Linked DNA regions of Homo sapiens. The protein of the gene in region 1 interacts with the protein of each later gene in a biochemical or structural test. Each region holds a gene or a part of one and is shown on either strand. Other genes may lie near its edges.

Region 1 (3,500 bases):
ATTCATAAGAATCAGGAAACAATACATTTTTTGGCTGGCTTTTTGAGTTAAAAGTCAGTAATTTTGGAGTGAAAGGGAAGAAAGAGTTTTGTCGTGGGAGTCTCTTTGGAGTTTAGGTTTTCCATTTAGATGAGAAAAGTTTGTTACGTGATATGGATCCATGCAAGTTTGGAGAATGCTCTAGTAGACATTGGAAGCTCTTAGTTTCTATTATAATGAGAGTGAATAGACTGATTCATTTCTGTTGCCTTAGCATTGCCTTTCTACAAACTTAAACCGATTTCTAAACTTTAGCTATTGAACACACATGATCTTACATACCAAAGTGTTTTTAGCTTTACTGAGAGATATCAAATACGCTATAGCTGCAATAAAGGATATAAAAATCATTTTTTAGGCCATACGAGATGCAGAGCGTGTAAAGGAAATGAAACGAATGCATAAAGCTGTCCAGAAAGATCTGCCAAGACCATCAGAAGTAAGTGTTAGAATTTCTGGTTTAGGAAGTTTTAAGTTTCTTTTTATATGATTGCTGCGTTTTACATCATTCATAAAGACTATAAAACAAAATTTCATCTACTTTCTGGAATATAGCAAAGTAGTTCTCAAATCCAATCTTTAAAATGTTTCAGTAGTACCAGAAAGAATTTAGAAGGAAAAAAATGGAAATTGCTTTTGAAAATGTAAAACCGCTGTTTAATTCATGCTGTAACAGGTAATAACATTAATATATTATAGTGATATGTTTGGTAATTGTATTTGTTTTAAAATTTTAGGTAAATGAAACTATTCTAAGACCCTTAAATGTAGAACCGCCTTTAACAGATTTACAGAAAAGTGAAGAACTAATCAAAAAAGAAATGATCACAATGCTTCATTATGACCTTCTACATCACCCTTATGAACCATCTGGAAATAAAAAAGGCAAAACTGTAGGGTTTGGTACCAATAATTCAGAGCACATTACCTATCTGGAACATAATCCTTATGAAAAGTTCTCCAAAGAAGAGCTGAAAAAGGTATGATTGAGCTGGAATATTTCTTCTTGAGATTTAGGTAGTTGTTAGGTGCTGTGTATCATGGACAAATAATGAACTTATTTTTCCCTGTTGGTATTCATAAACAACTGAAATGTATGATTAGGAGATGCATGTTTAGATTAAGTGTTATGAAAAGGACATGCTTTAAATACCTCCATCCCCCGTGTTCAGTGTGATAGACCTTTAGCAAATAAACACCGCCAGGGTGTTTTTGGTTCATGGGTATTAATGGCTTCGTTGACAGTTGTTACAGTTGCCGTTTTCTGTATTCAGCTCTGCTATCTCTGAATAAAAATTAGATGCCTTTAGTACTTAAACATCACTTATTTAGAATAATATGAAGAGGTGAGAGAGACTAATATAAAAATGTTTATAGATTAAACCTTTTAGCTATTGAAAGGAAGGAAGTATTTTTTTTACTGAATATATTCCCCTCACATGATTTCCCCCTACTCTTTTGGATAAGGACATGAAGAAATGATTTCTTATATGAAGTCTGTATCTGGTCTTTTCTTCTACATGCATTTTATTCCTTCTGTTTTGACAGAGCAAACAACTGTGATTGTAAATAGAAATCTCCATAATTGTATAAGAAGATACAGTGGGTCTCATCGTTGGAAGCAGAGTGGTCATTAGCTTAAAAGTCTTTTTTTCTTTAGCCTTCAGCCCTGAGGAGCAGTGATAGACCTATGGATTTGGAATGAGCTGCTGTATACTTAGGATAAAACAAACAAGATTCTTACAAACTCTCCTGTCTTCTCTCCTGCATTCTTCCTCTTTCTTCGCTTTTCACAATTTCTTACTTTGTGTTTTCTTTATTGCATAAGTAATACATTATTTATTATAGGATTTTTAGAAAATAGAGAAAGGAAGGAGGGTTTCGATTTATATTTCAATAACTTGTCCCTGATTTCAGAATAACTGAGTCACTCATTTTTTAGTAAGTGCAGTAGGGAAACTAACATCTGTTGAGTTGCCTACTCTGTCGAGCACATTTAATCATTGAACTGGGATTGAGAATCAGGCTACGAAATTGATACTTGCACAGTTTCCTCTTTTGAAAGTGAAAATATGAGGGGAAGAGGAATTTAGGAAATAAATTTTCCTAAATTGTATGTATGGAAACCTAAAACAAGGATCACATTGTTGCTTTTGGAGATTCTGTAGAGGGTAAACCCTAACACAATTTTTGAAAAATAATAATTCTAAGTATTGGTTTGTAATTGTTTGAAACAAAGTAGCTTAAATATTCTCTCATATTTTATCTGTGTATATCTCTCTTTGTTCCAAAAAGAATTTGAAGCAGCTATTTAGTTAGCAGATTATTTATGGATAGTTTAAAGATAACTTAGCCATATTCTCTCGTAATGATTATAAGATCTGAACTTGTAAATTTTTACTCTGTGCAGTTTCAGAGTGAAATAGCATTTCTCTTTTAATAAACTGTCAGATTTTCTTTTTCTTTAATATACTTTAAGATATGTTAACATTGATTTGTTTCCATTATTTCCCTTAAGGTATTAAGTGTCCATTTTTTCTTCTATAGAGATGATTTTCCGTTTCTTTTGTTAAAATTTTTTGTTTATCAATCATTTCTCTTGATTTTGTAGATTTTGATGTGTTTATTTTCATTATTACTGGAAAGATTGAAAGCCTTCTGTAAGGCACAGAAGGTGGTTCCCAGTTTTTCATAAGCCATGAAGCAAAGGGCTGGGAAAAAATTCATATGCTTATGGAATTCTGTGTGTCTGGCATTGGGCTAGGCTCTATAGTATATTGTTCACTTAATCCTAATAACAAACACATCTGATCTAAGGTCAGCATCATCATTGCTTGGAAAGCTGTTTTTCAGCTTTCCAGGCTGAAAAAGCCCTGAGAAATGGGCTCAGATAAATTAAGCAAGCTCAAAGAGCTGCTTCAATGGTAAAGCTGTGATCTGAACCCAGGCCTGTCCAGCTTTCCCTCTCATTCTGTCATTTTACACTATTTTCTTTAGTAGTGAACTAAACTGGTTTATGATCTATCATCTAATTCGTGCCCCAGTCTCATTATCTGGCAATGTCAGGGCATTCCTTCAGGATGAGAAAAATGCCATGTGACAAAAAGATGCCTAGCTCCCCTTTACCATCACGTGAGGTCCTGCACACATGGTGGAGTGGGAGAGTGGAAGGGGCACACCCAGTGGTGCCATTTGTATTCTGCCTCATCTGCCTACTAACGATGTGGTCTTAACAAGTGGTTGAATCTCTATGAGCCTTAGTTTCATTAGCTTTTTTTTTTTTTTTTTTTTTTTTGAGACTGAGTCTCACTCTGTTGCACAGGCTGGGGTGCAGTGGCACGATCCCAGCTCACTGCAGCCTCCACCTCCTGGGTTCAAGGGATTCTTGTGCCTCAGCCTCCTGAGTAGCTAGGATTACAGGCATGTGCCACTACGTCCTACTAATTTTTACATTTTTAGTA
Region 2 (3,500 bases), on another chromosome or scaffold:
CCCGCCTCGGCCTCCTGAAGTGCTGGGATTACAGGTGTAAACCACCGCGCCCGGCTTTTCTTTTTCTTTTCTTTTTTTTTTTTTTTTTTTGAGATAGAGTCTCATTCTGTCGCCTAGGCTGGAGTGCAGTGGCAAAATCTTGGCTCACTACAACCTCTGCCTCCCAGGCTGAAGCAATTGTCATGCCTCAGCCTCCAGAGTAGCTGGGATTACAGGCACACGTTACCATGCCCAGCTAATTTTTTGTATTTTTTTTTTTTGTAGAAATGGGGTTTCACCATGTTGGCCAGGCTGGTCTCGAACTCCTGACCTCAAGCAATCCACCCACCTCTGCCTCCCAAAGGGCTGGGATTACTGGCATGAGCCACTGCACCCAGCACCTCCCATACTTTTAAAATGTACTAAAACTTTGGGTGAGATGGAAAGAAAAGAGAAAAAACAAAAAAAACAGAAGATGAAGAAAAAGGTTCTTACTCATTGTATACTTTCCAGGCATTACATCCATGCTGTGACATTAGTTCCAGATTCTCAATTCTAACTGCTTGATGCTCTAACTGGGCCATAGAATTGTTTACACATTCTTGCCATGCAGTAATGTCATTTTTTTGACCAGAGGAGGGGGCTGGAAGCTCATATCTGAAATTAAACAACAAAATAAAATAAAACCATCTATACTGCCAAGCCTTTACATCTCTTCTCAGTAGAATGTCCCATGAGTCTCCATATAGTATAAAAACTACAGAAGACTAAGGATGTAAACCTTGCAATAATAAGAAACCGATATATGCTAACAATCAATTTACAAATATGATTTAGCACCATTATGTTCACTTCAATGTGAACTGGTTAAATAAGCAACATTACATTCACATAAAAGATTGTTACATTAGCTATTAAATGTTACTGAAGAATATTTAATAATATTAAGATGTCAGTAATATATTAAGGGGAAAAAGCAGTAGACAAAAAAGTTTGCTACCATTTTTGTAAAATACTCACACCCACCCATCCACTAACATACCCATGCGCCGGTAGAGAAAAAAATGAGAAGCGATATGACTCCTTCTATTCTCTCTTCATACTACCCAGTCAGTCCTTCAACACTGCCTCTCTCTCTCTCTCTCTCTCTCTCTATATATATATATATATAGTTTTTTTTTCAAGACTGGGTCTCCCTCTGTCCCCAACGCTGGAGTGCAGTGGCACAATCTCGGCTTGCTGCAACCTCCATCTCCTGGGGGGTGTCAAGCGATCCACCTACCTCAGCTTTCCAAGTAGCTGGGTCCACGGGTGCGTGCCACCACACCCAGGTACGTTTATTATTATTATTATTATTATTATTAATTATTTTTGGTAGAGATGGGGTTTTGCCATGTTGCCCAGGCTGGTCTCAAACTCCTGGATTCAAGCAATCCACCAGCCTCGGCCTCCCAAAGTGCTGGAATTACAGGTGTGAGCCACCACACCCGGCCAACACTGCCAATATTAGCCAGCAAATACATTCTTCACAAATCTCAGCTCATTACTGAGTTACTACAAACTAAATTTTAATTTCCATTTTAATATTCTTACCGTTTCATACTGAGCAATTCAATTGGTTGTCGAGCAGCCAGTCTTTCAAATTCATTTCTCATTATGTCAGTCTGATGTGTAAATCAGAAAAAAGATTTCTAAGATCATGTTGACAACTAAAAATTAACAATCACCAAAGAACAGATTTAAGCTACACTACCCATTATAATGAATTGTTTACCTTTCCCTAATTCTTCTCTGAGTTAAATGCTCTCTAGAATCTGAAGCACACACACACACACTCACTCACTCACTTCACATTCAGGAAAAGTGGCATGTATTAAGGAGCCCACAGAGAAAAGGATTAATCCTAAACCAGTGGTTCTTAATTCCAGAAGCATATCAGAATCAGTTCGACAGTGCTATGGTTTGAATGTTTGTCCCCTCTGAAATTCATACAGAAACTTAATCCCCAATGTAATAGTATTAAGAGGTGGGGTCTTTAAGAGGTGATTGGGTTATGAAGGCTCAATCCATTCATGGGTTAATAAGTTATCACCAGAGTGGGTATGTTATAAAAGCCAGTTTGTCTTTCTCTTGTGTGCCCCTACCTTGCCATGTAATGCCCTGTGCTGCTTCAGGACTGTACACCAAGTCCACACCAGCAAGAAGGCCCTCACCAGATGCAGCCTGTGAACCGTACACTTTCCAGCCTCCAGAAATCCAAGAAATAATTTATTTATTTATTTATTTTTTTTTTGTGAGACGAAGTCTCGCTCTTGTCCCCCAGGCTGGAGCGCAATGGCGCGATCTTGGCTCATCTCTGCCTCCCGGGTTCAAGCGATTCTCTTGCCTCAGCCTCCCGAGTAGCTGGGATGACAGGCATCTGCCACTATGCCTGGCTAATTTTTGTATTTTTAGTAGAGACAGGGTTTCACCATGTTGGCCAGGCTGGTCTCGAACTCCTGACCTGAGGTGATCGGCCTGCCTCAGCCTCCCAAAGTGTCTTTTCTTTATATTCACTATCTTCTCTAGCAATTTTACTGTTCGCAAGTAAATGTAGTATAGCTGTTCCTCTTTAGGGCCAACGTCCTAACCCATTTCCATTCTGCACATTTCCTACCCTGAGGATAAAGAACTGCTTAAAATATTTCTTTGTAGTAATACTTCGGTTATTCCATGTAATTTTAATTTTCTGAGGGTTTCAACTATCTTAACAATTAGACTAAATAAGTATCAAAGGCCTTACAGAAGCCTGCATGAATGTTTAAAAGTTTTTATTAGGCCGGGCGAGGTGGCTCATGCCTGTAATCCCAGCACTTCGGGAGGCCGAGGTGGGTGGATCACGAGGTCAAGAGATCAAGACCATCCTGGCCAACAAGTTGAAACCTCATCTCTACTAAAAATACAAAAATTAGCTGGGCGTGATGGCACGTGCCTGTAATCCCAGATACTCGGAGGCTGAGGCAGGAGAATTGCTTGAACCTGGGAGGTGGAGGTTGCAGTGAGCTGAGATCACACCACTGCACTCCAGCCTGGCAACAGAGTGAGACTTCATCTCAAAAACAAAAAAACAAAAAAACAAAAAAACAAAAAACAAAAAACAAAAAATTTCGTATTAAGCATTTCTTTCTGCAGAAAGTATTTTGCAGGGGCTACTGCTAAATTACACACAATCTTAAGAAAATGTAGTTACCTAGTTTCCTGCAAAAAAAAAAACCAGGGCATTCTAGCTAGAAAATTCTGCAGTGACAGACAAGGAGTAAACAGCCAATTAAACACGAGGCAGTATAAAAATGCAGTATAAGTAGTCTTGAGCCATGTAGCATAGGAGGAACCCTTAACTAACTCACATGCTCAGTAAGTGATAAATCTGGAATTTTAGCTCATCTCTCTCCAAAGACTAAGCCAGTGTTCATGGAGCGGCAAGGGCAATCCCTGCTCATGGAGTAGTCTCATCTTAGCTTTGAGAGGCCTTCCTCAACCAC
Region 3 (3,500 bases), on another chromosome or scaffold:
TTCCACAACCCCTGTTCCAAATCCTGCCTAAAACTCACCTCCTCCAAGAAGTTTTCCTCATTATAACCTATCCCACTCTGATTAAACTTTTGTTTCACATTCTCTTAGCGTGTAAGAGCTTGGTTCATATTAGGTTAAATTACATTGTTGATATTCTGTTTGCCAAGTGTTAAGTATTTCAATGTTAGTATAGTTTTCCCAACTAAGTCTAAGCTCTTCCAGGACAGGGGCTTTCTCTTTCTTCTTCAGTAATCCCCATTAACACTTTGTTTTCATCAAACAATGGAAACTCAAATATGATGACTAATTTGCAAGGTGAATTTAACAGGACCGAGAGTGGCCAACTGGAAGGGACAATGGGAAAAAGCAAATGTACACACCGGTGGTAGGCTTTGGGTGACATCCCCTCTTCACTAGGAGGGCTCGTGTTTTGCAAGGACATATCCTCGGCCAGGGGCGAGCGCTTCCTGGAACTCCTACAGTTCAAGAAAAAGGACTCTCCCATAATATATTGTGTGGGGTGGGGACCTGAATGGACCAAAAATGGGACCCGTATCCCAAGGCTATCTAGACACCTCCTTCAAGAAGCCATTTTTATTAATCCCACCCAATGTAGTCACTTCATTCACAGCATGCCCTCAGCACTCATACAGAAGTATGCCCTACTGGCCAGGCGCAGTGGCTCATGCCTGTAATTCCAGCACTTTGGGAGGCCGAGGCGAGCAGATCTTGAGGTCAGGAGTTCGAGACCAACCTGATCAACATGATGAAACCCCGTCTCTACTAAAAATACAAAAATTAGCCAGGCATGGTGGCATGTGCCTGTAATCCCAGCTACTCAGGAGGCTGAGGCAGGAGAATCACTTGAACCTGGGAGGTGGAAGTTGCAGTGAGTCAAGATTGCGCTACTGTACTCCAGCCTGGGCGACAGAGTGAGACTCACCCTTAGAAAAAAAAAAAGGAAAAAAAAAAAGAAGTATGCCCTATCGTGACATAATCTTCACTGTACAGATCTGTGTATACTGTGGATCAATCATTCCACCTTAAATATAACAAAATTCAACATAGGTCTGAAATTCTATAACCAACCCTAAAATTTACATGAAACTGCTACTTAGATTTTATAATACGTGAATATATATTTTGTGATACCCCTGCCTCTTCTAAATTGTAACTCCTGGGCTCAAGAGATCCTCTTGCCTCAGCTTCCCAAGTAGCTAGGATTACAGGCACATGCCACACTGCCTGACAAATTACAAATTGTTTTAAGGCAAGGACTATCTCTCCTTCTCTGACCACCCTACAATGCTCCAAACACAAAGGGCACAAATCTCTCTGCTTTTTTTTTTAGTTCCATAGCCTGGCCAGGGGACCAAGCAGACATTACTTATTCACTCTTTTCCCTCAGGAAAAGTAATGGGATAGCCAAGGTATCAGAAGAACTTTGGAAGGTTTGATAGGAGTCACAGAACTTTTTTTTTTCTCCTAAAGAGAGATACTGGGAAATGAGTAGAAAAATAGGCTACTTGATACTGCTAATACTGAAAGAGGCCAGGATCAGTCGGCAACTACAGAATAAAAAGTGTAGTAGTTAAGGGGGTACTGACAACTCCTCCAAGTGTTTCACTCATGGCAGCAGAGGACCAGCAATATGCCATAGAGCAAATGGTAAGCTCTCAAGAATATAATAAATAATAGTTATTTTTTGGTATTCTATCTACAAGTGCATTGCAGAGAAACCTCTACAAAGAGGCAACAATGAGGTGTACAGCTCAGGTACCAGTGGAGTCACATTCTAAAACAACTTATTAGGCCTCAAATAAATCAAAGATAAAATCTTAGAGCAATCAGTTTATAAGTAACAGTAAGAAGGAAAAAAAGGAAATATGGAGAAACATGAGAATCAAAACTCCTGTTATCTAAAAAAAGACAAAGCTGCCAATTATTTCTTTGGATATTTCAACCCATGAACTTAGAGGTAGTTCAGATGGTGATGACACTAATTCATCTCTCCTACTCTAATGTCTAAGTACCTCTCTTGAACATTTGCTGCTCTAAATAGAGGATATCAACGTGTGAACTGGTAAGCTCAGCAACTCTGTTACCATTCAAAACAGTCCTGAGCTCATTAGACAGTAAATTGTAACCTACCTTTAGCTCTCGTTTTCTGCTCCTGTCACTGCTAGACTTGGAATGCCTAGAGCTTCGGCCTTCCTCCACAGCCTCAAACAGTTTGTCCACAAATCGGAGAGTAGAATCATCAAGAAAAGGTTTCAGATGATCTGACAGGAAGAAAGGCGGTGGTAGGGTTGGAAAGGTAAGAGTACACAGTCTAATACTAGGCCTATAACAGGTACCAACACTGGAATTTTATTCCCAGGAGTGAAACAAATTTTAAGTTTTTTGTAGGATTCCCATCTCTCTTACACTAAATGACCTTGCCCTGTGAGGTGAAAATAGTTATAATTTTTTGGCGTGGGAAGTGGTGCAGTTAGAGCAACCTGTTTACCTTGAACATCAAGTTTGAGATGAATAACCACCCTCACCTTTCCCAAATAGCAAGTTGTAGAAGCCTACCATTAACAAAATCTACCTCCTTCAAGCTTTTTCATGTATTTCATAAAGATTTTTGTATGTTGAGATGTTCAGTCTGAATCTGAATATGCCTATCTGACTTAAGCATACTTCCTAAGTAAATCTAACTTAGGTGACTCAGTATGGTAGCCAAACGAAGATTTAAAATCTATCATAAATAACATAAAAAATAAGCAATTAAGAGAAAAAGCAAATTATTATTTAGCCTATTTTCACTATAATACAGGTGAAAATAAAATATGGCCTGCCATTTTTTTAGATGTTCCCAACAGAGAGAATTTTGAGGAAGTTCAAAGCAGTGTTTGGGGTCACCCTATATGTTAAGATAAAAGATGCAGAAAGGTACATACCGGCTGCCTTCTTCTTGTCCATGCCCTTCCCCACACAGTTCAATGCTGCTGTGACCACCGTAGGCTCTGAGAAACCCAGGACCCTCTTCACTGTCTTCTCTATCCATGGTTTCAGCTCATCCAGCTCCCTCTTTGACAGTGCCATTTTTCAGGAAAAAGAGAACAATAGCTCAAACAGGACTCAATACTACACCTAAAAAAAAAAAAGAGACAAGTTAGAGAATAAGAAAAGACTAAAGTGGGCTGGGTGCAGTGGCTCATGCCTGTAATCCCAGCACTTTGGGAGGCCAAGGTGGATGGACTGCCTGGGGTCAAGAGTTCGAGACCAGTCTGGCCAACATGGTGAAACCCTGCCTCTACTAAAAATACAAAAAAATTAGCTGGGCGTGGTGGCATGTGCCTGTAATCCCAGCTACTTGGGAGGCTGAGGCAGGGGAATAACCAGGGAGGTAGAGCTTGCAACAAGTCAAAATCGCACCACTGCACTCCAGCCTGGGCGACAAAGCAAGACTCTCTCTACAAAAAAAAAAAAGACTAAAGTGATCCAGGGAAATG
Region 4 (3,500 bases), on another chromosome or scaffold:
GGGATTTAGCCGCTTACCTGACAGGAGAAGGCAGCTGTCTGCAGCTCAGGGTAACATCCATTCTGTTAGATGGTCTCTGTTTAAGGAACCTGTTCTTTGTGTGGTTACCCACCTTGGGATGGTATTTGGCCTTTCATCTCCGGCCAGCTCCTCTCCGCCACCACTGTGTTCCCGAGCCACTTTCTCCTTGGCCCCTTTTCCTTCATATCAATTGATGTGTGATCAAGAAGTACAATCAGTTTTCATAATAATTTAATACAAATTAATTTAGCTTCGATATTAGCAAAAGTAAAATTTCACTAAGAAGGTAAATCTACAAGAAAAAAGATAATGCCTTCTGATAAGTTGCTCTGGTTTATAAAATCTTTTGGGCCAGGCACGGTGGCTCATACCTTAATTCCAGCACTTTGGGAGGCCGAGGTGGACAATTGCTTGAGGCCAGGAGTTCAAGACCAGCCTGGCCAACATGGTGAAACCTCGTCTCTACAAAAAATACAAAAATCAGCCGGGCCTGTAGTCCCAGCTACTCGGTGCGTGCCTGTAGTCCCAGCTACTCGGGAGGCTGAGGCACGAGAATCACTTGCCAGGAGGTGGAGGTTGCAGCGAGCCAAGTTGGTACCACCACACTCCATCCTGGGTGACAAAGCAAGACTCTGTCTCAAAACAAAAAAACCACTTTTGGCTTCTGTATCAGGCATAGGAGGCCTTTTATGGAAACACTTTTGCTACCACGGTATATTGGCTGTCCGTTTCCACACTGGTACATTTCGGTGATGATCACCACGCAGCTGCTGCCTGAGAATGAGCATTAGCAGATTAAAGGACTACCCCAGACGGCCACTTTATAGCTTACGGGTTGTTGACTTTCCCAGTTTCTGATTTTAGGCCTGGGGTGGTCTGGCCACTGCCAATATGCAAGGCTAGTTTAAGAAAAGATTCTTTGGTACTTTGGCACTGATTCTCTTCACCACTGGGGGGCATCAAAGCAACTGAGATTCAAAGAAAGGTCATTCCGTTTCTTCAGTAGACTTTGGGCCAGGAGCAGTGCCTCACGCCCTGTAATCCCAGCACTTTGGGAGGCCGAGGGAGGAGGATTGTCTGAGTCCAGGAGTTTGAGATCAGCCTGGCCAACAGAGCAAGACCCCATCTCTTAAAAAAATTTTTTTTTCGAGACGGAGTTTCGGTCTTGTTGCCCAGGCTGGAGTGCAATGGCGCCATCTCGGCTCACTGCAACCTCCGCCTCCTGAGAATTGCCTACAAGTGATTCTCCTGCCTCAGCCTCCCGAGTAGCTGGGATTACAGGCACCCACCACCACGCCCGGCTAATTTTGTATTTTTAGTAGAGACGGGGTTTCACCATGTTGGCCAGGATAGTCTTGATCTCTTGACCTCGTGATCCGCCCGCCTCATCCTCCCAAAATGCTGGGGTTACAGGCATGAGCCACTGCGCCCAGCCTAAAAAAAATTTTTTTAATGGGCCTGGGCATGGAAGTCCCAGTTACTTAGCAGGGCAAAGGTGGGAGGATCACTGAGCTCAGGGGGTCAAAGCTGCCTTGAGCCATGATTGCATCATTGCACTCCAGCCTGGGTGACAGAGTGAAACTCTGACACAATTTTTTTTAATTTAAATATTATAAAAAATATATAATTACGAAGATACCAGCTTCAGCCGACATGACCGTGACCTGTGTGAAAGCTGGGCGGGTGGTGGGAAACCTGTGTCTGTCGCGTAGCAGCAAGTTGCATGTGGAGAAGCAGAAGCATGTCACATCAAGCGCTCGTCATCGTTATTCGTTCACGTTTTCAGGTTTGACGCAGAAGGACAAGCCTTAGATGGTGTTTCCATCTCTGATCTAAAGAGCGGCGGAGTCGGAGGGAGTAACACCAACTGGAAAACCTTGTATGAGGTCAAATCCGAGAACCTGGGCCAAGGCGACAAGGTACCCAGCATTCCTAACCACCTTCACAAAGGGCTGTAAAGTGTGCAGAAGGATGGATTTAGAAACTTGGTTTCCAGCACCAGCTGTCAGAGCCGTAATTCTTACCCGGGGCTGTGACCTGAGCGTGGCATGGGGGTTGAGAATCACTGGCAGAGGGAAGCAGCCAGGTGTGCTCATGGGAATATGTGTTACCCCTCAGGGGACTGGAGGCAGGAGAGTCTGAAGAACTCTTAGAGTCAATTCCTAGAGGGATCTTGGAGCAGGGGTGACAGTCAAGCTTTGTGGTATAATATCACCTGCTTTCGGGTCCACGTTTCTTTCCTGTGATCCTTCCTGCAAATTTAAGCGCCCACATATCAAAAAGATGTTTTTTGAGATGAGCGTTAGTCCGCCTCAGGTCAGACATGAGGCAGTTTCACGGGTGCTGTTCCTGGCTGTAGAATAGTGTATTAACCTCATAGGCTGAGAGCTGCCGGCATTCCCGGACAAGGATTGGCCCTGACATTTGACTTTTAGTTGCAGCTTTTTCCTTTCAGTGTTTGTATTTAATGACCCTCCTCCCATCTTGATCTAAGCCTGTGTTCTGCCAGCAGTTTAGTATTTAGATCATTTATTTCTCCTTTACGCCTGCTCTTTTATTTTCATCATATACAGTGTAGGTTTCATTCCTCCTGTCTCATTTCACTGTATACCCTTATCCATCATTGTCAACAGCAGCTCTTAAGTGCTCTTATAGAACATCTCAAGAATTAAACACTGGACAGATCCTCGTTGTCCTGTCATGGGACACCCACTCTTTCGGTTCTCTGTAATCCCAGCTACCCAGGAGGCTGAGGCAGGTGGATTACATGAGCCCAGGAGTTCGACTGAGCAACATGGAAGACCCCTTCTCTTGAAACAAAAACTTTATTGCTGAAAAATGCTGACAATCATCTGAGTCGTAATCTTCTTGCTGGTGGGGGTTTGTTTCAGGGTTGATGGCTGAGCAGTCACGGCGATGGTTGCTGAACATCGGCGTGTCTTTGGCAGTTTCTTAAAATAAGACAGCAGTGAAGTGTGCCACATTGGTTGACTCTTCCTTTCACAAAAGCTTTCTCCATAGCCGGCGATGCTGTTTGACAGCATTTTACCCACAGGAGAACTTTTTCAAACTGGAGTCTCTCCCTCTCAGGTCCTGTCACTGCTTTATCAGCCAAGCTTATGCAAATTCTAAATCCTTTGTCGTCATTTCAACAATGCTCACAGCGTTCTCACCACAAGAGATTTCATCTCAAGAAAGCACTTTCCTTGCCCATCGTAAGGAGCAGCTCCTTATCCGTTCAAGTTTGATCGTGAGATTACAGCAGTTCAGGCCCATTTTCAGGCTCCATTTGTAATTCTAGTTCTCTCGTTATTTTCGTCACATCTACAGATCCCTCCTCCACCAAAGTCTTGAAGCCTCAGTGTCTACCTTGAGGGTTGGAATCAACTTGTTCCAAACTCCCGTTGATGTTGGGATTTTGATCTCCTCCCATGAATCATGAATGTTCCTTTTTTTTTTAACTTGAGACAGGGTCTCAT

Evidence for each region. Proteins that work in one complex are often made in the same cells at the same time.
Region 2: the proteins of CDC5L (region 1) and BCAS2 form a complex in vitro, tested with the Homo sapiens proteins (one study listed by BioGRID).
Region 3: the proteins of CDC5L (region 1) and PRPF3 form a complex in vitro, tested with the Homo sapiens proteins (one study listed by BioGRID).
Region 4: the proteins of CDC5L (region 1) and RPA1 form a complex in vitro, tested with the Homo sapiens proteins (one study listed by BioGRID).

Annotation. Positions count from the first base shown.
Region 1 is NC_000006.12:44,425,706-44,429,205, forward strand, and holds part of CDC5L (cell division cycle 5-like protein), read left to right. Parts: intron 1-397; coding exon 398-478; intron 479-776; coding exon 777-1,019; intron 1,020-3,500.
Region 2 is NC_000001.11:114,575,116-114,578,615, forward strand, and holds part of BCAS2 (pre-mRNA-splicing factor SPF27), read right to left. Parts: intron 1,644-3,500; coding exon 1,573-1,643; intron 637-1,572; coding exon 475-636; intron 1-474. UniProt on the Homo sapiens protein: Required for pre-mRNA splicing as component of the activated spliceosome. Component of the PRP19-CDC5L complex that forms an integral part of the spliceosome and is required for activating pre-mRNA splicing.
Region 3 is NC_000001.11:150,324,533-150,328,032, reverse strand, and holds part of PRPF3 (U4/U6 small nuclear ribonucleoprotein Prp3), read right to left. Parts: intron 3,139-3,500; 5' UTR 3,091-3,138; coding exon 2,946-3,090; intron 2,283-2,945; coding exon 2,152-2,282; intron 477-2,151; exon of another isoform or gene 381-476; intron 1-380. UniProt on the Homo sapiens protein: Plays a role in pre-mRNA splicing as component of the U4/U6-U5 tri-snRNP complex that is involved in spliceosome assembly, and as component of the precatalytic spliceosome (spliceosome B complex).
Region 4 is NC_000017.11:1,882,005-1,885,504, forward strand, and holds part of RPA1 (replication protein A 70 kDa DNA-binding subunit), read left to right. Parts: intron 1-1,807; coding exon 1,808-1,940; intron 1,941-3,500. UniProt on the Homo sapiens protein: As part of the heterotrimeric replication protein A complex (RPA/RP-A), binds and stabilizes single-stranded DNA intermediates that form during DNA replication or upon DNA stress.